Homo sapiens: one gene and its partners. The protein of the gene in region 1 purifies or fractionates together with the protein of each later gene. This does not show direct contact. Each region holds a gene or a part of one and is shown in the gene's direction. Other genes may lie near its edges.

What was found.
Region 2: the proteins of SKAP1 (region 1) and MYO9A purify together in Homo sapiens (affinity purification with mass spectrometry; 3 studies listed by BioGRID and IntAct, with this or other methods). This does not show direct contact.
Region 3: the proteins of SKAP1 (region 1) and URI1 purify together in Homo sapiens (affinity purification with mass spectrometry; 4 studies listed by BioGRID and IntAct, with this or other methods). This does not show direct contact.

Annotation. Positions count from the first base shown.
Region 1 is NC_000017.11:48,426,310-48,434,844, reverse strand, and holds the start of SKAP1 (src kinase-associated phosphoprotein 1), read left to right. Parts: upstream 1-4,630; 5' UTR 4,631-4,724; coding exon 4,725-4,770; intron 4,771-4,912; exon of another isoform or gene 4,913-5,235; coding exon of another isoform or gene 5,236-5,259; intron 5,260-8,535. UniProt on the Homo sapiens protein: Positively regulates T-cell receptor signaling by enhancing the MAP kinase pathway. Required for optimal conjugation between T-cells and antigen-presenting cells by promoting the clustering of integrin ITGAL on the surface of T-cells.
Region 2 is NC_000015.10:71,897,502-71,906,022, reverse strand, and holds part of MYO9A (unconventional myosin-IXa), read left to right. Parts: intron 1-1,016; coding exon 1,017-1,097; intron 1,098-1,983; coding exon 1,984-2,094; intron 2,095-2,959; coding exon 2,960-3,082; intron 3,083-4,682; coding exon 4,683-4,832; intron 4,833-6,016; coding exon 6,017-6,336; intron 6,337-6,990; coding exon 6,991-8,521. UniProt on the Homo sapiens protein: Myosins are actin-based motor molecules with ATPase activity. Unconventional myosins serve in intracellular movements. Regulates Rho by stimulating it's GTPase activity in neurons.
Region 3 is NC_000019.10:30,007,367-30,015,887, forward strand, and holds part of URI1 (unconventional prefoldin RPB5 interactor 1), read left to right. Parts: intron 1-103; coding exon 104-272; intron 273-1,638; coding exon 1,639-1,987; intron 1,988-3,727; coding exon 3,728-3,870; intron 3,871-4,918; coding exon 4,919-5,165; intron 5,166-7,520; coding exon 7,521-7,703; 3' UTR 7,704-8,169; coding exon of another isoform or gene 8,170-8,226; 3' UTR 8,227-8,521. UniProt on the Homo sapiens protein: Involved in gene transcription regulation. Acts as a transcriptional repressor in concert with the corepressor UXT to regulate androgen receptor (AR) transcription.

The DNA of each region.
Region 1 (8,535 bases):
GGAGGGCCAACAGTGATGACTTCGTAGAGTGGCTCAGTGATCCCTAGGCTGTAACTATCTATCTTAGGTATTTTTCAGTTCTACAAGAGCTTTGTACCTGATTCTAATGCACAGCTCCTGGTAAGCTGGGGGACCCTGGGTATAGTGCTGGGTCTGTTCCTTATCTTGAATTTGCTCCCTTTGAAGATTCTTTTGAGTTTTTATATAGTCCCTCATACTGTTCCAAGCCTGTACCTCACTGAGAACCTGCTTATGGAATTGTTTCCTGATGTGATATGAGAAGCTGCTTATTTTGTTGTATGTATTAAGGCAGAGAATCTAGGAGTGTGAGCTGGAAGGGGAGACCATTGGAAGTGTATTTGTGTGAGTGTGTGTATAACAGGACCCTCCTAAGTTGAAGAGTTAGCTAATTGGTAAGAACAAGGCTTCTGGCAAGCCGTGGAAACTTCATTTTTAGGCCACTGAAGTAACGTGCCCAAGTTAGCATCTTATGTCCATCTCCTCTGCCTTCAAGGTGGCATGATGCTTGGTTTCTGGAGCCTTGCAAAACATACAGTGAGCCTGGTTCTTGGCACCGACAGGATGCATCATCTCTCCTTCCACATCTCTTAATGAAGTGTGCAGCTCTTGGCCTCATTAGGCCCCAGCATTGTCAATAAAAGAGTCAATAAACCCGGTTGATGGGGTTGGGACCGAGAGGCTGAGAGGCAGTGGCTGCACATCCATAGGGCAGACGTCAGCTCCGCCACATGTCATGACCCAGCATTCAGGGATCAATAACCAGCTCAGAATAAAGCCTCAGAGCCTGCCCTCTGCAGTTTCCTCTCCAGACCCATTTCAGCCAGGGCAGAGCGGTGCCAGCCAGCTCCTGCTTTGCTTGCAGTTGTGTTCCCACTGCATGCCATTCTGGGTGCCAGATGCTTTTGTTTCTTCCTGATTGGTCCCTCTGGACATCCCATAGATGCCTATTTAGCGAGTGCCCACCTGGCATGAGAACATGTAGACAGCATTCCCAAGAAGCTCAGAGGCCAATATGGGCCCTATTTTCTGTGTCTTCTGTCTGCTGACAGTGCGTGAAGGGTCCCGGTGGACAAGGCGGTGTGTTTTCTGCATGTTGTGCTGCTGGACTCCATTCCTGGCTGTTCTACATCTCTTTAGATCCCCTTATCTTATCTAATTACAAGGAATTCCAGATTAATTTCATGGCCTCTGCTCCAAAGGACCTCTTATCTGTGAGGGCCTTGTATTTTAACCTTGTCATTCTTTTGTTGTTTGTCTTTAAGGGGCAGGCAGCTAAGAAGAGGATGCTAAGATCTTGCTGGAATTGGGTCTGGGGGGGACGGGAAGAAAAGGGAGGCAGACAGACCTGAGATTTGTGTATTCTGTTCTGTCCTCCTGCCTGTGTGCAGAGACAGCTGGCTGCTTTCTTCCATGACAGCCACATAGTACCCAGCCACACAGAACAGGACCCAGGCAGGGACTCAGCTACTGCCAACCTCTCCAGATTGCTTTGATATTTCTGACAGAACAGTAAAGGACTCGTGACTATCACGTTTTGCCTTGCCTCTCTTCACCTCCTCTAAGACTCCTCCATGTGGTTTCCATGGCTACCCCCAATCAGATTTGGCTTCCTGCGAAATTGGATTTCAAAAAAGGACAAGGCTTCAAAGGAATTTGTCCATTTAACAGAATGTCATTAGGAGTGGGGCTGACTGCTGAAACAGGGTCCTCAGATGATTAAGGAAGGGCTGCGTTCATGTGTGGAGGCAGATTTCTGTCTGCAATGAGGAACCTTGATGCAACATGACAATACCGTATTGGAATCTGCCAGTCACTCACTACATACTACCCGACTGTGCACCTCCCTCTACCCCTGTCTCTCTAAAACCCAGAGATTCTTGTAAGGAAGGATGCATATAGAATACGTACACTGTGAGTTTTTGGTGTAAGTAAGCTATGACAGGCAGTGAAGCCTGCAAAGAAGTGCAATTACCTGGGTTTACTGCTCTTTATCAAACAATTCATTAGCTGGTAGCTTATATTAGTATGTGACACCATATCCTTGAAGAAGAGGGGGAGGTTATCAAATTTTCTTCTGTTGCCAAGAAGGAAAGCAAGGCAAAGTTTAGGTTGACATATGGGGAGACTTTGCTGCCCTTGCTGTATTTTTTGTGTAACAGTTTAGATTTACCAAAAAAAAATTGAGATGATAGCACAGACAGTTCCCATGTATCTTTCCTTGCTTTTTAGTATGCCTCATAAGTACTTCAAAATGATTCTAGAGCAGCTACAATTTTATAGGTGAAGTGGTGAAGTTGGTAAAAATGCCATGGGGGTACCTGGTACTTGATCCCAAGCCTGAAAGGGGTAGTCTGCCCATTGCTATACTTTCTTTCTTTCTTTCTTTCTTTTTTTTGAGATGGAGTCTTGCCCTGTCACCCAGGCTAGAGTGCAATGGCCTGATCTCGGCTCACTGCAACCTCCGCCCCCCGGGTTCATGTGATTCTCCTGCCTCAGCCACCCGAGTAGCTGGGATTACAGGCGTGCACCACCATGCCCAGCTAATTTTTGTATTATTAGTAGAGACGGGGTTTCACTATATTGGTCAGGCTGACCTCAAACTCCTGACCTCGTGATCCGCCTGCCTTGGCCTCCCAAAGTGCTGGGATTATAGGCGTGAGCCACTGTGCCCAGCCACCCATTACTATACTTTCTCAGGGCAGGAAGGAGGATGAGCAGGAGCCAGATACCCCAGAGAGGCTCATGCCAGCCTCTGTCCCCTCACCCCAATTTACTGCAGCTTGTAGGTGGGTCATGTGACACTGAAACCAATGCACCACTGCTTTTCAGATGGCAGGATGCACTGTACTCCTTAAAGGATCACACCCTCATCTTTGAGGCTGTATCTCTGGATGGGAAACAGTACAAGGAGGCAGGCACTTTTATCACACTCATCCTTCTCGATGGTTTCTTCTTACTGCTCTTGCCCCGTCTGCTAGATTGAGTCCATCATTATTCCCCTTATGGCTGTTGTAAAAACCATTTTACCCACTTCCCCCTGTGTCTTTTCCCACCACTCCTAATCTTTTCTACATATTCTGTAGGTTGAGTCTGAGAATAGAAATGCCATTTTTTACAAAGAAGGAAAAAGGCAGAGGTGGAGATGTGTGAGGCCACATACCACCCCGGAGCTCTGGTTAGGTCATTCCCAATCTCAAAAATTGTCAATGGCTCCCCAGTGCCCTCTCAATTAAGTTCAACATTCCTATTCTGACTTTCAAGTCCCTTCACAGTAGAGCTGCAGTTTATCTTGACAACCATAGTCTTTCTACAACATCCAGTAAAAGAGGGCTACTAACTATTCCTCAAGCTGGTGAGGGCTCTTCCATCTTTCTTTACTCTGGTCCTTCCACCTGGAAAGTCCTCTGCCCCTTCAAAGTCTGGTGTGTTTTTCAGAGCCCATCTCAAACACCACATGCACCTTTAAACACTCACATGCACACTGGCACTTCTTTTTATTTTCTTTCTTTTTTAAGAGACAGGGTCTTGCTCTGTTGCCCAGGCTGGGGTACACTGGGGTGATCATAGTTGGCTGTAACCTCAGATTCCTGGGCTCAAGTGATCCTCCTGCTTCAGCCTCCCAAAGTGCTGTGATTACAGGTGTGAGCCACAATGCCTGGCCTCTTCCCTCCTTTTCTGGTATTCAGCTCCCTTCTTTTATCAACCATAGCACTTTATACTTTTTTCATGGCAGTTGACCTATTGTACTTAAAAAACCTCTTTATTTTGAGAATTATAGATTCACAGAGAGTTTCAGAAATAATAGAGGAACTCTGTCTACCTTTACCCAGTTTCCCCCAAGGGTAACATCTGGCACTATTACAGTACCATGTCACAACCAGGACACTGACACCAACTGTCCCTTGAATGAGACCGTGTGATTTTGTCCTTCACTTTCCTCCCTTCCGCAGCTCCTGGAGGGAAAGGGCTCTGTTCTCCTCTCCCTCAGCTTTCTCCCTGTGTTACCCCTTCCTTTCCTCAGGGCCTTTCCATCCTGAGGGAGAACAGCACAGTTTGGTTTCCTGTGTCCCTTGCTGCCACGCTGCCGCGATTCTCCCAAATGTTGGTGTCCTTATATTGCTTATTGGGAATTAATCATTTCCTTTCAACATTGTGGCTTCCCAAAGAGCGAAGTTTTGCCCTCTTTTCTGGGGATGGAGATGTGAACTGGACCGGCAATTGAGGGGTGCTATGCTTGACGGGGATCTCTTCCTTGGATTCTGCCTCCCTGCACCCTACTTCAGGCACCCCGTGGTCTTTCAAATCTGCCACCGTGAGGTCAACTGTTCGGTGCTTAGGATGGAGTGTCCAAAGCCGTGGGTCCTTTGAGCCTTGTGAAGTCTTTTGTTTTGGTGGGTGCTGGAGGGGCGCACCTTTGGCCTCGCACGGTGCGGTGCTTCCGGCACCCCCAATCCTTCTACCGTGGGGCTCCGGCGTGAGCGCCACGTGCACCCACGCCCCGCGCCCCGTTCCGGTCCCCGCCTGCCGCCCGCGCCACTTCCTGACGCGCCCGGGGACCCACGGCCCCGCCCCGCGGCCGGGCTGGGCGGGCGGCGACCGCGGCTGAGGTACAGGTGCCTCGCGGTGCAGCCGGGTCGCCTTCCAGCCCGTCCGCCTCCCGACCAGGGCCCGCGCCCCGTCCCGCCTCTCTCCCGCCCAGCCAAATGCAGGCCGCCGCCCTCCCTGAGGAGATCCGTTGGCTCCTGGAAGGTAACGCCCTGGCGCAGGCCCCCTCCAGTGCTGAGCCGAAGGCCGAAAGGGGACACCAGGCCTCCCACGGCCAGGCTTTCTTTACGGCTTCGTCACTCACCTCCTTCTAGAACCTTAAGGCTTCTAGAGCCCTCAACTCCCTAGAGCCAGCTTTCCATCCTCTCACCTCAGGGCCCCTTTCACTCCCTGGAGTCCCACATCTTCTTTTGCCTTGAGGCACCTCCACGCCTCCACTTCACCTCCCCGGCTTCTAAAGTCCTCAGGCCAGGTTCTTGGTCCCCCATGCCACCTTGCCTGGTCTCCGACCTGTCCCTTTCTCCAAAGGACTGCCCTACATCTGTAGGGTTTCCCGTCCCCCTCCTTCCCCAGCCACGACTTCCTCACCTCTCACAGAAGACCCCAAACCTTCCTGCTTAGAGGTCCCCGAGGCTCTCCAGGGGGCTGCGAGGGGCTCATGGGATCCCCATGGGCCAAGGCCAGGTGGTTGACGTGAGTTTTTGTCAGTGCGAAAACCCCAGCCCTCCCTTTATCACCCTGCAGACGTCTAGGGGTCTCACCCACCCCAAGGCAGGCTCATTCTCAGTATGGGATTTCCTCCTTTTCTAGAAGTGCCCCCATTGTGGTGTGTTCACCTTCCAACTCCCATTGTGGTGTGTTCACCTTCCAACTACAGTGTCTAAGCGGTGGTTTAAAGAGTTCCGGCCATCCCCGTCAACACTCAACACACACTGCCAACACTCCAAAGAGATGTCACAAAGAGACGTTGCTAACGGGCAGTTTCATCTGCTGGGTTTCGTGGTGGAAGTCACTTTTACTTGCTTTCCTGTAACTAACCTTCCAGGGAGGACAGAGGCCTGGAATCTGCAGTCGCATAAGGCTCCCAGGAGGAAACTATTCAGAATTAAGCCTTTTGGCATCTAAGTTGACATAGTTGACACATATTTAACAGACGGCCTGCTTTGGGCAGGTCATATTTTTGGCAAGCAGTATTTTTTTTCAGTTTCTCTCAATTTAATTGGTTTTATATCTCCATTACCTTGTTATCTCGGTATAAATGCCTCCTAATCAAATATTTGGCAAGTCCTTTTGGTCTCTGTCTGTAGCACTATTTCCATTCTGGATTGCTTCTATGTAAAAGCTGTCAGCTAGATATTTCTTTTGAGGTGAGGTTTCCAAAATCCGTTTTACTTACGATCAGAATAAATCTAAATTTTGGGGGTAGAAAACTATTTGCAGGGTAAAAGAGAATTATCTGGGTGTCTAAGAAGAAACAATCCAGCCTTTCCCTCTGTTGTTGGTTTAATATTAGGCTTGTGAAGGAAGGCTGTAATTGTCTTTGGTTTCTAGGAAAGAAGGGACTGTGGCAAAAAGTTTAACTCTGCCCTTGCATTGAAATATATAAACTGATTCTTTTTATTGGTATCTGTCATTTGATGAGAGGAAACCTATTTTATAAGCTTATTAAACTATACTTCAGTTTTGTGTCTAGGCTTGGTAGAAAATTCCTTTTTATTTTCAGAGGCTTGCAATGAAATCCATTCCTTCAGCATTTTTGATGTGCAGTTCTTCATTGTTCAAAACTGACACTTTGGTAAACAACTCATTTCTGCACCTGCCACCTTCCTTTAGCTTAGATTATTTTCTTGTTAGCTGACTGTTTTTAATTGAAGTCTTCAGATCTCCTTCTAAAGCAGAACCTTTGTTTGCTGACAAGTAGAGCGGGGTATGAATGGAGATTAATTGCATGTCGCATACTTCTGTATCAAGCTTGCTGTATCTTAACAATCTCTGTTGGTGCTCAGGTCTTTAAAATATATGGAGGAGTCTGAAACCAAATTATAAGGAGCTTCGTTGGTTAATGTATTTCTTTAAGGCTTTTTTTTTTAAGTTTGCAATTAGAACTTGAATCTGAAGTAGAGAAAAAAATGTAAAGTGTGATTCATCCAGTAATTCTATTGAAAAATGTTTGAAGATATGTTTTTTAAAGGTTCCTGTAATAATAATAGCAATATATTGGTTACAAGTTTTATTTCTTTTGGAACACAGTCGCTGGTGTAGACCAGGAGGATTATTCATTGTGTTACAAATAATCTGTCCATATTAGAAACCCAAAATGGCCATCAATTTGTTGTTTGTTGCTATTTGTCTCCCCCACCACACACTTTTTAAGGTTAACTGTTGACAATTAGAAAAAATGGAGGTCCTGATCTCTATATAGTCACTCTGTGGGAGGGAGTCACAGGATGTGAGGGCTGCAACTCTAGTGCTGCCACATGGCTGTGGGGGTGGGGTTTCCACAATGAATTACTACTTTCATAAACCAAGGCATAAGCATTTGCACAGTGATTTAACACTGGACATCACAGCCATAACTTAAGCATTTATTTATTTATAACTACACAAGCATAAATGACAGGGGCATTTTTTGACATAATGTGTGTGCTTTTAAGAATAAAATATGTAAAGCATTGTGAAAGGTAGATAACAAAATTTTGCATAATGAAGAGAACAGAAATTCCCAAGGCCTAAAATTAATTTTGTTTAAATATAAAATTTGAGACACTTGGAAATGTTTCACTCGACCTAGAAACCTCACTTCTAAAAATCTGTCACTGAAGTGAAAGGTCATGAAGTAGTATATGCACGAAGATCTATGCTAAATGTTAATAAGTTGGGAGACTCAGGGTGATGGTTGAATGAATTATGGGACATTTGTCTCATGGAATACTTCACAGCCACTAAAAGAGTATTCTGTGGATCTATATATAGGCTTGGAAAGTGTCCATGGCATATTTTTAAGACTAAAAGGCAAAATGCATGATAGTACATGTAATATCCCATTTTTGCTTGAAAACCAAAAGACAAAACAAGAAAAGCCACATATGTTATAAATATTTGTGTAAGCCTAGGAATAAGTAAAAAAGAATATATACCAGACTGTTAACATTGGCTTCCTTGAGAGAAGACTGAGAGTTTGGAGGAGGGGAGGTTATTAATTTTTATTTCATACATCTTTGTGTTGTTTGAATTGTGACAATGACCATGCATTACTTCTGTAAACAGGAAAAAATAAACAGTAAGGGTATTTAAAAGAAAAAGGAACAAAAGACAAATAGAAACTCAGAGAGGTCAGAGTGCTAACGGACCATTTACTATGCTTGTGATCATGTTTTTCTCTTTTTAGCCCTGAGGGGTATGGAAGGTGGAGAAATTAAAAAAAAAAAACACGCTATCTTGGATTTTTGGCAAATATCAAAACAGTGTGAGGTTTCTAGAGTAACTCAGGAAATAGCTTCTTTAGATAGACTCTGTCAAGCTCTCATATAGAAATAGTAACTAGTCCCCTATCAACAAATAAATACCTCATAGATAAGTAAAATGGAGGGTGCTTTCTGCTTTATTGAAAGAGGAGGAAATATTCAGGTCTGTTTTCAAATAATGGGGCTTCAGATGTAGAAGTTATCTTTTTGTTTTTGTTCTGTGATAACCACACCGAAAACAAAAACAATGAAGTGCTGGCAGTTTGCATAATCTTTGCTCCACAGATATAAACATAATCAGTCTCTTCTTCCTGGTCTTTCTAGCCCTGCTTTTGAAGTCAGAAGCAAAAGAGACAAGTATGAAGGAGGTGGAATAGATATTTCTTTGGTTCGTAGTTTGTCCTGTGTGATGGAATGGGGCCTACTGACATTACCCTGGTAGCTGATAGGTCCCAACTGCCTACATGGTACTAAATCCTGCCCAGAATATGGATTTAAGCCAAAA
Region 2 (8,521 bases), on another chromosome or scaffold:
AAAGCAGTGCTCCAAGGTTAATTTATAGCACTAAATGCTTTTATTAGAAAAGGAGATATGTCTCAATTCAATAATCTAAATTTCTACCTCGATAAACTATAAAAAGAATATATGAAACCCAATACAAGCAGAGAAAAGTAAATAATAAAGATAACAGCAGAATTCAATGAAATGAAAAACAGAAAAATAGACAAAACACTGACACCAAAAGCTGGTTCTTTAAGCAGATCCAAATTTTTTTTTTTTTTTTTTTTTTTTTTGAGACAGAGTCTCACTTTGTTGCGCAGGCTGGAGTGCAGTGGCACCATCTTGGCTTACTGCAACCTCCACCTCCCAGGTTTAAGTAATTCTCATGCCTCAGCCGGGCACCACCACGCCTGGCTAATTTTTGTATTTTTTAGTAGAGATGGGGTTTCACCATGTTGGCCAGGCTGGTCTCAAACTTCTGACCTCAGGTGATCCTGCCCTCCTTGGCCCTCCAAAATGCTGGGATTATAGGCGTGAGCCACCATGCCTGGGCTGAGCAAATCAAAAAGTTGATAAATTTCTAGCCACTAATCAGGAAGAAAGAGAGAATGTGCAAATTACCATTATCAGGAATAAAAAAAGGGATATCATTACATACTTTGTAGACATTTAAAGTAAAGCAAGGGCTTACTACCTTACTGGATACCCTCCTGAATCATTTTAAAAGTTGTAGGATACATGAGTTTGAATAAAATTGTTTGATGAAATGTGAAGAAAAGTGAAAAAAATTCTATATTTGATTGTTCTGAAAACATCTGCAATATTTACTATTTCCAGGCTATCTGCTTTAATATTAAACTACCATCTTTATCCTTAATTATCCATAATTTAACCAGTATGAGAATATACACAATGTGCTTTTCAAAAACCTCTTTCTATGTGTACCTCTACTTTTTGAATGTTTTGCCAGCATGTTGATTATAGTTATAAATTATTTGTTAATAGTTTGGAATGGAAGAGTATGATAATTATATTGCTTTCTGTTGCAGGCATCATTAAGCAAGCTAATGGAAACACTTGGTCAAGCAGAACCATATTTTGTAAAATGCATTCGCTCTAATGCTGAAAAGGTAAAAATGTCCTATAAATGAGAGCACATATCTCAGCTTACTTCAAACTGAGCTTTAAATACTTTTAAGCAGAATAAGTGGAGGGGAAGCACTAACTATAATATTTATAAGGAAAATAGTATGTTATAAACACTTTAAATGGATTTTTCCACACTTCCCTGCCTGTAAGGTGTTTATTTGGATTTGATTTAGCATCACCCAGAATTTGAGAAGCAAATACCTCTTGAAGTCCTGTCAGAAAAGAATTTTCTTTTTTGTTTTTGTTTTTGTTTTGAGGCAGAGTCTCACTGTGTCACCTAGGCTGGAGTGCAGTGGCATGATCTCAGCTCACTGTAATCTCCGCCTCCTGGTTTCAAGCAGTTCTCCTGCCTCAGCCTCCTGAGTAGCTGGGACTACAGGTGTGCACCACCACGCCCGGCTAATTTTTGTATTTTTAGTAGAGACAAGGATTTGCCATGTTGGCCAGGCTGGTCTTGAACTCCTGACCTCAGGTGATCAGCCCACCTTGGCCTCCCAAAGTGCTAGGATTATAGGCGTGAGCCACTACACCCAGTTGTAGGTTATCTTGTTACAGATTTTGTAGTGATTGGACTATGTGGCCTCTGTGGGTGACTACATTCTTTTTGAGCCTTTAAGGTCCTCTCTCTTCACAACCAGAGAAGCCTGGAAGCTTGGTTTCTCTCTTTTCCCTAGGGTTGGGCAGTCAGAACTTTTCTGAAGCTACCAGCTGAGAGGTGAGCTTGCCTTAATATACTTAGTTACTGTATATGTTAACCAGACAACCTCCAGTCAATCTCTAGATACTCAACAGTTAGTCATGCTTATAAACAGATAATTAATTTGGAGATCTACTGTTCTGGGTTAATCTTTTTTCCATTTGCTTTAGCTGCCCTTAAGGTTCAGTGATGTCTTGGTACTTAGACAGCTTCGATACACCGGGATGCTGGAAACAGTTCGAATTCGCCAATCAGGATACAGCTCCAAATATTCTTTCCAGGTTCTGTTTTTATAGTGATATTTACATATTTAGACACATCAAGTAAATGATTCCCACATATCTTGCTTATTATTTCTTTGGGGCTTACTTATTTTCCTTAATTCTTCCTTTCCATTTCACGTTTTGTATACGGAATTGAAAAGGGATAGACAGTATTTACTTTGATTGAATGGCAGCAATCTCATTAAGCTTATTGTAATAGAATCCAGTACTTGGCTATTCTCATTTGCTCGGAATGTTTGCTAATACTAAATTTACTCCTGATATAACAATTCTTTGCACTGACCTCTCCAGTAACTGAAATAGTTCAATGAGAATTATCTAGTGAAAAGATTCTATTTGGTTTTCCCTAAAGTTTTCTCAGCAGGATTTTCTTTCATAGTAAGCTGCCAGCAAGGCTCACAGCTACTCGTATCAGCAATTGCTGCTATGGGTATGGAAACTATATTGAAGCTGTTCAGCAACTGAGCAAGTCTTTGCTGTTACTGGGACGGAAAGCCTCATTCTCAGTGATACCCTGTCCCCATCCTGCCACGTTTGCTTTTTTTTTCCTGATAGAAATTTTAGGGTCTTGTTAAATACCCTTTTCTTTGGTCTTTTATAAAGCTTTCTCAAAAGGGATAATTAGCCTCTGCCTTTTTTTTCTCTCATTCCCTTTTGATGTCATGATATGTAGAACCCAATATCTTTCTCCACCTCCTATGTTTTCCGAATTAACCTTTTATCATATCTTAAATTAACATGCACGTCTTGGTTTCACCCTGTTTAAAAGAAAGAGAAAAGATTAATAGAATGATAATTAGTTTAAGGTCTTGTTTACATACACTGTTTTCTGATTTTACAATATTTTTAAATTATTTTTCAGGATTTTGTGAGCCACTTCCATGTACTTCTTCCCCGAAATATTATTCCATCCAAATTTAACATTCAGGATTTCTTCAGGAAAATAAATCTTAATCCAGATAATTATCAAGTTGGAAAAACCATGGTAAATATAATCTGTATAGCTCTGGTCAAAATTGAGTGCATTTATTTAAAAAATAATAATTTTTGCCTATGAGATTGTTTATTAAAAAGATAGTGAATCAGATATCAGAAGACAATTGGTTAGGCCCAGGTTTTTATTTAATTATGTAGTCAATATTAATCACAGAGCTCTGGCCAGTGCTCTAGTTCTGACTATAATTTTAACTGCCTAAAAATCATCTCTCCATAGATACTCTACTGTAATCTCCAAGCCAGCTTGCCCAAGGTGACCATATCCAGATTCATCTGTTCTTAAATTTATCAAATACTTTCTTTCTCTGTCACCCTTTTTCCAGTTTCTCAGTCTAGAAACCATAATTGTCTTTGGCATACCGTTCACTTTAATCCTTTCACAAAGTTTTAGGGATTTTTTTTCCTTTTACAAAGAGATTCTTACATCGCTTTCTGTTTCTCCATTACTACTGCTTCCATTTTATTTTTATTCCTTATCTCTTCTCATCTACATTGCTTATACAGTGAACAGCTTACTTATCTGATTCTAGTATATTTGTCATTCCATTTAATTTATTCTACTCATAATATTAAAATTATTATCTTAATATACTTAGTTCTTTATGTCTGCCTCCTGCTTGATAATAACCTCCTGATAACCTCCTCATTAAATCCAAACATCTTTCTCTTTTTTGAGAACCTTCATATTGTGGCTTCACATTACTTAATATCTTTTTTATGGAGATTAATTGTCCCGTTGTCTCCTGTGCATGCCTTTATTATTATTTTCAACTCTCTGTGTTACTCAGGTGGGATCTTTTGTCTCTGGCCCTTATTAGTTTACCATCTTCCTCTTCGGGTATATAATATCTACCTGCTCTCAAATGAGAGGTATAATTCCTGTTTCTAAAGGGATATGTCTCCTTCACCTTTGCAGCCTCACAAACCCTAAACATTAGTGGAATGAAGGAGTAAATAAAATAAACTTATTAATAACTTTGGACAGTGAGAAGCTTTTAATGCACGCTGGATTTCAAAAAGACTGTTATCATTGGTTTATTCATTATATGATTCAAGCTTCAAGATCTATGGTTTTCAACTTTTTTCCCCATCCCAACACGCTTGAAAAATATGACTTATTACCAGTAATACATTTACTCATAGCAGTGGTTTCCCCAATGGACTAATGTATCATAATCTCTGGCACTGGAATTTTGATATTCTTGCTCACCTTGTCATTTTTCCCTCCCTTCCTCCCTTCCTTACCTTCCTTTTTTTGTCTTTTTTTTTTTTGGAGACCAGGTCTCTCTATTTTGCCGTAGAACTGGAACTCCTGGGCTTCAGCAAACTTCCTGTTTCAGCCTTCTCAGTAGTTAGGAGTATAGGCATGTAGCACCACACCCAGCTCACCTTCCGTATTCTACTATCTCCATTTCAATTTGAGAATGACTACTTTGGATAAATCTGTAGGAATATTTATCAGTACTTCATTTACATGCCTGCCACTGTGTTTGTTCTTCTCTAAAAGCTTATCACAGAAAGGATGATTCATGAAATAAATTTCTCATTTCTTCTTAAGCTGCATTCCTCATCTTTCTTCCTTTTGGTAGGTCTTTCTAAAGGAGCAGGAACGACAGCACTTACAAGATCTGCTTCACCAAGAGGTGCTCCGCAGAATCATATTGTTGCAGCGATGGTTCAGGGTCTTGCTGTGTAGGCAGCATTTCCTCCATCTGAGACAAGCATCTGTTATTATCCAGGTGAGAAGCAAAGGATTCTTTGCATGAGATTGACTAGTTTATTTGGCCTTTGTTTAGTAACCAGAACCTTTTTACTGTAAAACATTTTCAGTAATAATGTGAACTTCAGAAATGAGAATATGTCGTACCCAATTTTGAAGTGCTCATAACACCCAACAGATTATCTGGCATATAATAGACTATTAATAAATATTGATTCCATTGAATTTAAATTAAATTGAATTTGTAGTTATAATGTCTTGTGAGATCTGTGTAGGGGCTAAGGAGTTACCTAATATTTGTTGACATAGTTGTTTTTATTTAATAGTTTTTGGAGTGATGTTTGAGAGTTGTATATATACCGTTGGTTTTAGACACTCATTTTGGATGATAGGTACCTTATTTTACATTTTATTTGTTTTATTAACTCCCTCATTGATTTATATCATTTCCATAAGATCTTTTCCATTTGTGCAAGAAAATCTTTAGTATCTTCATCTTTGGAATGTGTGTCAGGATTACCTTAAACCCATTAGTGTTATTTAGGAAAATTGTAACAAAAGAATATAATATGTTAAAGTTACTAATAATTTGAAGGACATGAAATCATCCAAAAATTTTAAATTAGGTTCTGTAATTAACTTCTTCAAGGTTATATTATTTAAAATAGCTGTTTTAGCCAAACATATCTGGAAGAGAAAACTTTTTTCTATTTATCTTTTTCAGGTACACTTTCTGCTTTTGTAGAAAACTAGTTTTTTTATTTTTATTTTTTTGAGACAGAGTCTCACTCTGTCACCCAGGCTGGAGTGCAGTGGCGTGAATTCTGCTCACTGCAAGCTCCAGCTCCCAGGTTCACGCCATTCTCCTGCCTCAGCCTCCTGAGTAGCTGGGACTATAGGCACCCACCACCACGCCCAGCTAATTTTTTTTGTATTTTTAGTAGAGACGGGGTTTCACCATGTTAGCCAGGTTGGTCTCTATCTCCTGACCTCATGATCTGCCTGCCTTAGCCTCCAAAAGTGCTGGGATTACAGGCATGAGCCACCGCACCTGGCCAGAAAACTTATTTTTAATCACCAAGAATTTAGCTGCATAGCCACTTAACCTGTAATTATGACATAAGAAATTTATTCTCTTTTTTTCCTGTGAAAATGCAGTGTAAGATATGACAACCAGTTTCTGTTATTTTGTCTTCCCCATAGAGATTCTGGAGGAATTACCTAAATCAGAAGCAAGTCAGAGATGCAGCTGTGCAGAAGGATGCTTTTGTTATGGCTAGTGCAGCTGCTCTTCTCCAAGCTTCCTGGCGTGCTCACTTAGAGAGGCAGCGGTACTTGGAGTTACGGGCTGCAGCCATCGTTATCCAGCAGAAATGGAGAGATTACTATAGGCGCAGGCACATGGCTGCTATTTGCATACAAGCAAGATGGAAAGCCTACAGGGAAAGTAAAAGGTACCAAGAACAAAGGAAAAAAATTATCCTTTTGCAATCAACATGTAGAGGATTCAGAGCAAGACAAAGGTAATCTCTATTACTATAATAATTGCTTTTTTTCTTCTTCCCAAGTACTTTGTTTATACCTCTGCATTAACACTTGTCTAATTTGTATTAGAATTGGTTGTATACAATTTGTCTTTTCCACTATACTGTGATACCGATTTTAACCCACATTGTATTGTCTATAATGGAAGTTAAATAAGGTTTTATTGAATTAAATTGGATTGAAAATCTACATGGTCTGTGATCATAACTGCTAAGAATTAACTTCTACATTAGGCTGAATCTTATAAAATTGGCAATATTCAACTGTTGTTACTTTCAGAAACTTTAATTTCACACTTAAATTAAAATTTCACTTTAATTTCACACTTAAAATTTCACTTTAATTTGAGGTTTACTTTAAAATAAAGGCATTATTAAAATGAGAGCTTTACTTCTGAATTAGTTTACATTTTGACTGAAATGCCTAGGTAGAAGTAATACACTTAATGAAATATCATCTGACTCATGGAAATAGGAAAATTATGAAATGTGCATTCAAGTTAGTTTAAGAAGAACTTAGGTATTATAAAAAGATTTTACAACTCTGCATTTTTTCTTAAATTCTCAGGAAATATGTTATTTTCAGTGGTAACTAAGATATTTCTATAACCCATTTTGTCTGTTTTTATATAGATTTAAAGCTTTAAAAGAACAAAGGCTAAGAGAAACAAAGCCAGAAGTTGGATTGGTGAATATTAAGGGATATGGATCTCTGGAAATTCAGGGTTCAGACCCTTCAGGATGGGAGGATTGTTCTTTTGACAACAGAATAAAAGCCATAGAGGAATGTAAATCTGTAATAGAGAGTAATCGAATTAGCCGTGAAAGTTCAGTGGACTGCTTGAAGGAGTCACCAAACAAGCAGCAGGAGAGAGCCCAAAGCCAGAGTGGTGTGGACTTGCAGGAAGATGTGCTTGTAAGAGAGAGACCCAGATCCTTGGAGGATCTCCATCAGAAAAAAGTAGGCCGGGCTAAGAGAGAAAGTAGGAGAATGAGAGAACTAGAGCAAGCTATATTTAGCTTAGAATTGCTGAAAGTTCGTTCTCTTGGTGGTATTTCTCCTTCAGAGGATCGCAGATGGTCTACAGAATTGGTGCCTGAAGGCCTTCAGTCTCCACGGGGTACACCTGATAGTGAGAGCTCTCAAGGAAGCTTGGAACTTCTGAGCTATGAGGAAAGCCAAAAGAGCAAACTAGAGTCTGTCATTTCAGATGAAGGAGACTTGCAGTTTCCATCACCTAAGATATCCAGCAGTCCAAAATTTGATTCACGGGACAATGCCCTCAGTGCCTCAAATGAGACTAGCAGTGCAGAGCATTTGAAGGATGGAACTATGAAGGAAATGGTGGTCTGCAGTTCTGAGTCTATTACCTGTAAACCACAGCTGAAAGACTCCTTCATTTCAAATAGTCTACCTACTTTTTTTTATATCCCCCAACAAGACCCACTGAAAACAAATTCCCAACTAGACACAAGTATCCAAAGAAACAAACTATTGGAAAATGAAGACACAGCGGGGGAAGCTCTTACTTTGGATATCAACAGGGAAACTAGAAGGTATCACTGCTCAGGAAAAGATCAGATTGTTCCTTCTTTGAATACAGAGTCTTCTAATCCTGTGCTTAAGAAGTTAGAAAAGCTAAACACTGAGAAGGAAGAAAGGCAAAAACAGTTGCAGCAACAGAATGAAAAAGAGATGATGGAACAGATTCGCCAGCAAACAGATATTTTAGAGAAGGAGCGCAAAGCCTTCAAGACAATTGAAAAGCCAAGAATTGGAGAGTGTTTGGTGGCACCATCTTCCTATCAGTCAAAGCAAAGAGTAGAGAGGCCATCCTCTCTCCTCAGCTTAAATACCTCAAATAAGGGAGAACTTAATGTACTGGGGTCCCTATCATTAAAAGATGCAGCTCTTGCCCAAAAAGACAGTTCCTCTGCTCACTTACCCCCAAAGGACCGACCTGTCACCGTGTTCTTTGAAAGAAAAGGAAGTCCATGCCAATCTAGTACTGTCAAGGAATTATCCAAGACAGACAGAATGGGCACCCAGCTGAATGTAGCCTGTAAACTCTCAAATAATCGCATTTCAAAAAGAGAACACTTTAGGCCAACTCAGTCTTACAGCCACAATTCTGATGACCTTTCCAGAGAGGGAAATGCTAGG
Region 3 (8,521 bases), on another chromosome or scaffold:
TTTCAATATTTCCCTTGCCCCAAAAGAAAGTCTCATTAAGTCTGGGTTTGTGCCTTTTTTATGTTGGCTATTAACAGCCACGTCTTTTCCTTTTTCTAAATAGCAAAACACCGAATTGCTCATAAACCGCATTCCAAACCAAAAACTTCAGATATTTTTGAAGCAGATATTGCAAATGATGTGAAATCCAAGGATTTGCTAGCTGATAAAGAACTGTGGGCTCGACTTGAAGAACTAGAGAGACAGGAAGAATTGCTGGGTGAACTTGATAGGTACTTGATGACAAATTATCTTTCCAAGATAATTTGTTTCTATACACATTTCCTCATTAATCTTTTTCTTCATTAATAAAATAATATGTGTTCATTGAAGAAAATGCAGGGAAGCATAATATATTATCAATAATCCTTTCACCTCAAGATGAACATTAATTCTCTGGAATATTTTCTTATAGGATTGTGTGTTTGTGCATATTCCCATGCATGTACATGTACTTAAATACTTAAGATCAACATCTTCATTTTTTATTATGGCCTATTTTATATAATTAATTATACCAGATAGTTGACTTTTAATAATCATGGATTTAATATATATAATGTTAAATTTTAAATGAAGTATTTTTATGCCACACCCAGGATAGTGCTCTATCTTTGAATGTGTTGTGAAAAACAAAAATACACTTTGAATTTAAATTTGATACAGTAAAATGTTTATTCTTGCTTTCCTTTTATAAACTTTGGAGCAGGTAATTTGTAATCTGGTCAGATAGCTATATGTATGAGAAACTTTACGAAATTGCTGTTTGAAATACACATTAGCACACACTTAGAATTGTTAAAATGCTAAATGAAATCTGCTACTCGAGAAGTTCTATATTATTTTGCTTAAATGATGTACCATATGCAATAATTAGTTTCTGTGAAAAATAGGGCAGGAAGCATAAAAGTTTCTTTTTCCTAGTGTTTCACCTATAAATTCTTAGGTCTTTTTGATTAACTAATACTATTCATTTTTTAAAACCAGTTTTGGATCTTGTGATTTTTCTTGGTCATGATTCTCTTTCTATTTTTTGTATGATGTTATTTCAGTTCTGTTGCATTTTCAATTTTGTTATTTTTGTAAGGTCCTCACATCTTTTATAGAATCAAGTATGATAAATGTTCACTCATGCATATAGATATATTCGTGTGCATATGTATAAATCCTTTATTTTTAAAAATTACAATAATACATGCTCATTGTAAAATATTCTGAGTATAGGAGTAGAAAATAAGTGTGTATTATGTGGTTTCAATTTCTGGTCTTTAGAGATAAATGTTCTCTGAATTTCTTACAACTTTATTATTATTGATACTATATTTATATTGCATATGGCCAATATCTTTCTTGCAAAGATAAAAAAATTATCTTCTATATTCTACTTATGTCTGAATAACCTCAATATATAGAAGCAGCATAGGAACTGTTTTTTGTTAATTTATTTCAAAACATTTTTTTGTTTTTGAACTTAGAATTCTAGTTTTAAAAATACTTTATTCAAGATCTTAGTATTTACCCATGGAAACTAACTGGAAATTTAAATAATGTAAAATTCTAGTATGTTTGTTTGATCTTGTTAATTTTCTTCCTTGCTAGTAAGCCTGATACTGTGATTGCAAATGGAGAAGATACGACATCTTCTGAAGAGGAAAAGGAAGATCGTAACACAAATGTGAATGCGATGCATCAAGTAACAGACTCTCATACTCCTTGTCATAAGGATGTTGCAAGTTCAGAACCATTCAGTGGTCAAGTGAATAGTCAGTTGAACTGTTCAGTGAATGGTTCCAGTTCTTACCACAGTGATGATGATGATGATGATGATGATGACGACGACGACGACAACATTGACGACGATGATGGTGATAACGACCATGAGGCTTTAGGGGTTGGAGATAATTCTATACCAACAATATATTTTTCACATACTGTTGAGCCTAAGAGGGTTTGTATACTTTTAACTTTACTAATTTTGCATATAATTTGAACATTAAGCATTATGATATTTTTTAGAAGAGCAATATTAACAATCATTATCATTGTGGATAGTGCCAGACAGGAAAATCATCTTTTGCCTCTTGTTCTGACCAATTTAAGAAGAAAAAGGGAAAAAAAATTTAGTTAGCTGGTATTGGTCCATTGTTCTCTGAAACAATGCATTGTTTGGGGTCTGGAAGGGGATCAGATTTGAGTGGCAACTACTGTAACTTCACCTGTCCTTCATTCAGAGAGTTTTCTTAAGAATCCTGGAGTTAATTATATTGTGGACATTTTGGTGTGCTTAGGATGTTGAAAGTGACTGCATTAGTTAAATTTTTAATTATGCCAGGTTGTTTTCTATGGACATAAAATGAATACTTCATAGGCACAAAGGGAAAATGTAGGAGGAAGTAAAAATTAGTTTCTTTTCTGACAAAGTAAATATAAACATCTGTGGATAATCATGACTTAGAATTTTGGCATTTTAGAGCTGGGGGTGACTGGAGATTTTCTAATACAGAGTTTTAAAGCTTTTCTCTAGTATGAAAAGCCTTTTGTTCCCTCCATACTTACTGTAGAATCCCAGTATTTAAAATAGATCAAAGCAGCTTGGCTCTGATTGAAGGAAGGATAGGCTGCCTTAAGTCCATCTTTGCCCTCTCTCTGCTCCATGTACTGCTCTAAGGGGACACTGGGAATTCGTCTAATTCGTCTTTCTCAGGGAAATTTAAGGCCTAGAAGACATAGATCTGGTTGGTAACAAAACAGGAACTCTTTCGCCTCTGAGTGCCCTTTCTACACAATATCCCGATTGCCTGTATCAGTTAAGGGTCTGTGGTATCATTCTTAAGTGTGTGTGATTATTATTTAGTGAAATATGTTTAAAACATATTTGATATTTCTTAGCTTCCTAAAGTTATTCCTGCTCCTATATGAAGTGAAATAATTGTTTGTGTTTTTATATTCTAATATGTCAGACTGAAGGGGTCTTCCCCTGATTCTTCGGGAAAAGTTGACTGAGATGATTAGCCAGAAAAAAAGGTCGCTTTTTAATCTTTTGCCAGGCTTTTACTTTTTTCCTGTTTTCATTTAGATAAAACAGAAAGAACAAATATTATTTGCAGGAACGTTACAGGTAATAGTGGTCATTATTGTGGAAAGTATGCTCTAAGTGCTGACTAGGGATAGAAAAATAACATGTTAACCCCATGTGAACCCTGAACAGGCTTGGTTTTTATTTTTTTACTCCTTCAATTTCTAAAAATTAGAGATGTTTTAAAAATTCTAAATAGGCATTATTTAATAGTACTTTTATGACTTAAAGGTTGTATTCTTACTGAATTTTTGTTTATACTCTTTCTTTTGAAATACATAATTCAAGCCAAACACTTATATCAAAGGAATGGGGTGATGGGAAGTTTATAAGAAATCTAGCATTTAGTTCAAATGTATTTTGCTTTCTCTACAATAATAAAGACACTGAAGACTAGGATTTGTTAATAAAGAAGATTTTCTTTAGATGTCATAGATCTATGAGATAAGGACTTTTTAAAAAATTCCATCTGATAATGCACATCATTTCAGCATCAGAAAATTTCAGCTGCCTCTCTTACTATTATTTTTTTAGTTATAGAGTTTATTTGTTTTGGTTTCACTTTGATTTAATTTGTCAAAAGATTCTTAATTTCTTGCTCTGAAATTTTAGGTCCGAATAAATACTGGAAAGAATACCACTTTAAAATTCAGTGAAAAGAAAGAAGAAGCCAAACGTAAACGAAAGAACAGCACTGGCAGTGGCCACTCTGCCCAGGAGCTGCCGACCATCAGGACGCCTGCAGACATTTACAGGTGGGAGGCGCTCACAGCTGCAGGGCAGTCTGCTGGGCTTGCCTCTCTTTCTGCCACTGAACCTTTACTGGAGAAAGTTGACTGTAACACAGAAGACCCTCACTGAAAAGTGAAGTGTTCTGAGGAGTTAACTTAGGATCTGATAGGCTGACCGGCTGTAGCTTCCCAGTCCAGAGCAGTGGGAATGGAGGATTTTTTTTTTTTTTCACTTTCTCCTCTTCACCAGTGCTTTTGAAACATTTCCAAATGGTCTAGTCAGAAAATCTTGTATCTTCAGAAAGCATTTTTGTTTCCAGTGGGCTAGGTCCCTACGTTTCTACCACAGCCGTAACATGCTTGGCATGCAGTTTACCTTTTCAGAGTAGAAATTATACTGTTGCAGGTTTTTTTTTTTTTTCCTTTTTTTTGGAATTGTTTGTTGAGAAAACTATCACTTGAAAATACCTACTGTTTTTATGACCCTTATTTATAAATCAGTGAAAATTGCTAAATGTATACGTGGGTCTAAAACTTTATGTAGAATTTTGGCAAACCATGCTATTGCCACCTAGGACATGCTTAAAAATAACATGCTGTGTTTTTGTTCTCACTCATAGGTGGGAATTGAACAATGAGAACACTTGGACACAGGGTGGGGAACACCACACACCGGGGTCTGTCATGGGGTGGGGGGAGGGGGGAAGGATAGCATTAGGAGATACACCTAATGTAAATGATGAGTTAATGGGTGCAGCACACCAACATGGCACATGTATACATATGTAACAAACCTGCACGTTGTGCACATGTACCCTAGAACTTAAAGTATAATAAAATAAATAAATAACATGCTGTGTTTTATTATTAGGCCAGAGAAATAGCTTTCAAAATAGTATGAAGATACCATTTGAGGCTATAAAATTATTGTGATTGTGACTATTTTAGATATAAGATTGTAATAAAAATTTTCAGATTAATTTCTAGAATAGATTCAAGGAAATTTTCAAAAAGTTGTTCTCAGTTTTATGAGTTACGTATAGTGAATGCATATGTGTTTTGAATATCACAGAGCCTTTGTTGATGTTGTGAATGGAGAATATGTCCCTCGCAAATCCATCCTGAAGTCTCGAAGTAGAGAGAATAGTGTGTGTAGCGACACTAGTGAAAGCAGTGCTGCTGAATTTGATGATAGGCGGGGAGTTTTGAGGAGTATCAGCTGCGAAGAAGCCACTTGCAGTGACACCAGTGAGAGCATTTTGGAAGAGGAACCACAAGAAAATCAAAAGAAACTTTTGCCCTTATCAGTAACACCTGAGGTGTGTGTGTGTATCTTTTAATTCTTTATTTCATATAGTATCTTTGACCAGTTTTAGCTATTTAATCTGAAAAGTCATAAGATTAAATTAATTCTAGGTTTTATACTTTCTTGGTACTAATTAATAAAAAATTAATAGTCACAAACAGTACAAATATTGTGATAATCAAATAGTTTATTTTTTGATAAACACATTACTTGTCTTAACGTTCTATTTCAGCAAAATGGGAAATTTAAAATGTCTTACTTGGCATTATGTATTACATTTGTAGCTAGGAAATTATTTCGCAGTTTATTTTAAATAAATTACCAGTAGGTCATTTTCTGATAGTGTAAGGAGCAGATTACATTATTCTCTTTTAAATACCTTGGCTAAGTTAAAGAAAAATAATGCATGCATAGCAGATAATTACCTAAAGTCTAATATTTTACCTTGTACCAGTGAAACTTAACTCTTGGGGGATTATGGAATTGTTTTATAATCTGATGAAAGCTGTAGACCCTGTCCATAGAAAAAATAGTGCACACTCAATACACTTTCACCCACCACACTTCTTACAGTTTTTGGTGGTGGTGCAGGGGAGGTTAGGAAATCCCCAAATAAGGATGTCTGTGAAATATAAGGCTATTGATTTCTTCATTCTTGTGTTTTGGTGCGTATTTGAAGTTTTCAATTTAAAAAGTATTTAGGAAGATTGGGGAACCCATGCCTGGATCAAACCAGTGTACACATTTGTATATACAATAAGATACATGCATATATATAACCTTATCTAAAAATTCCATTGCTTTTACTAAATGGTATTATACTCAGTGTATTAAATGGTAATTGGGGATGGAGATTGGTAGCATTTAGGGACAGTACATATGACTAGAATGTTTTCTTCCCCTCTTCTTAGTATAATGATCTTAGGTGACCTGGAAAGTATCTTACCTTATTTGATAGTCTTCCATACTGTTAGAAAACAGGTAATGGATGTTATCAGGTAATTGCTGATAAATGTTTGAAAATTAGTTTTTTGTAAGGACTTAGTGTATCATGGTACAGCTAGAGTGTGGAACCTATTTTTTATTTCACCCTTAGTAGCTTTGCATTTTGTATGGAAATGTTTAATAGTAGTTGCTATACATTTTTTAACATCAAAGAAATAGTTCATGATTATGGTAAGTACTTTGGAAGATATCCTTTTCAGTATCTTTTTAAATGCTAAAATACCTCTTTTTCAAAGGCATTTTAAATAGAAGAAGGAGAAGAAGGCTCTATGCTCATCGTGATAAAGTGGAGTTTTTAGGAAAGTAAGCTTTAAGCTGCTTTTACCAGTTGAACTCCAAAAATAATGTAGGAGAGAGATGGCTTTCTTTGTTTTTGTTTCAGTGGTGGGGCAAGGTAGAAGAAGGTGGCTTTTTAAATTATTTAGGTGTTACGTTGTTTTAACTAATTTTGAGCACTTGGTAGACAGAGGAGAACAAAATGTACATTAAAGTTCACCTGTCAAATTTTCATTTGTAGAGGGAAGGATGGAGGTTCTAAATACCAGCAATCTTAAAAAAAAAAAAAAAATTAACTCCTTGTGTCTTACCTATTTTTGTATAAAACGACATGTACAGATATTTCCAGCAATTTATGCACATTCTTTAATTCTGTTCCAGTTGAACATATAGTTGACCAGATTAAATGCAGCAAACATCCAGGTGAAATTGAGTCATTTCTTTTTTTGTGGAACTTCTGATTTCTGTCATTGAGTTAATTATATTAAAATTTTGAAACCTGTACTTATTCCTACTAGTATCAGCACTTTTATTTTTCAACTTCCACTGATCTTTTAAAATTGAGGCAATATGCAGTAAAATATTTAAATAATTGCATAAACACCACCAAAGAGATATCAGTTAGAAATGTCAGTACTGGTGAAACTAAGCTATTGGCTAGCAGGCAGCAAGGCCATCATAGGATAGCTCATTCATCAACTGATGTACAAAAGTCAGAGTTTGACACCCTAATAGCATTTTTATTTTAATACATTATTTTTCACAGCATGGGCTGGACATGAATGGAATGTATGAAAGTTTGAAGACCTTTTATTTATCCATTTCTTTTTTTTCCCAGATAAAATTTACATTTTACATTTTGTTTTCTTGCATGTATACTGTAAAAATTACTTCTGTTTGGTGGTGAAATTAAAACTTAATGGTGTTGGTTTCTCTGAACAATTAGTATTTTGGTGTAGTAGTGTTGTCTAGCCAAAAATCTCGTGAATTTACTTTTAATGAAAAGAATTGCCAAATGAGTGAATGGGAAGATTTTGTGGGTGTCTTATTTGCATTTTATTACCATAACCTGACTTTTGTTTTCTAGGCTTTTTCTGGAACTGTTATAGAAAAAGAATTTGTATCACCTTCCTTAACACCACCCCCAGCCATTGCTCATCCCGCACTACCCACTATTCCAGAACGAAAGGAAGTTCTGTTGGAAGCATCTGAAGAAACTGGAAAGAGGGTTTCAAAGTTTAAAGCTGCCAGATTGCAACAGAAAGACTAGGCCCTGTCTAGGAAATGGGAATTTACATCCTAAAACCTAGTTGTTCATTTGTTTAGAGTATCTATAGCAAAATAGGTTACATGTAGTTTGAAATAAGGTATCCTGAGTTACTTTGGCAACAAGTTCTTTTACCCTTACCCGTGGTATTTGAAAAAAATCAAGGTAACTGTCTGAATACTTTAATATCAGCTTGTTTTGTGAATTCTCTGAATACTGTCAACACTCTTATCTAAGTTTGCCTTTATGATGCAGTGGCAGCATTTTGAATTACTTTTCAAAGAATACTGTTCATATGCATTGTTTTTGTGTTTCAAACTAAATACAGGCAGTTTTGTGCCAGCTGTGATATTGTGCATACCATATGGACCATTTTAAAGAAAATTTTAAAATTTCAAATAGATTCAACAATTACATTACTTGCTTTCACATTTTAAAGGCACTTTAAAAAAATCTACTTCTCTTGTAGGTTTTGCGGCTAGTTGGCTATTCAAGAAACCTCGCCCCTCTGAATGTCATACTGTAATCTTTAAGGAAGAAAGCTACATGAATTAATTGTACTCTATGGGAAAATTTCTTTGGAAAGATATTTTGTAAAACTTTTTTTTCCAAGTAAAAACTTTATGAAACTTGGTCTCAAAAATGTTGTGAACTTTATGATTCAAAATTGAGTACAGATATGTCCTTGATTCATATGTATGCTACATGTATCACACAACAGATCTGGAATTCTTTCAGTTCCTCAGATACTTCTCCCTTAGTTTTTGCAGTTTCACTGGGATTATGTTTTGGGAAACAAGGAAAGGTCTAGATGCTTAAAC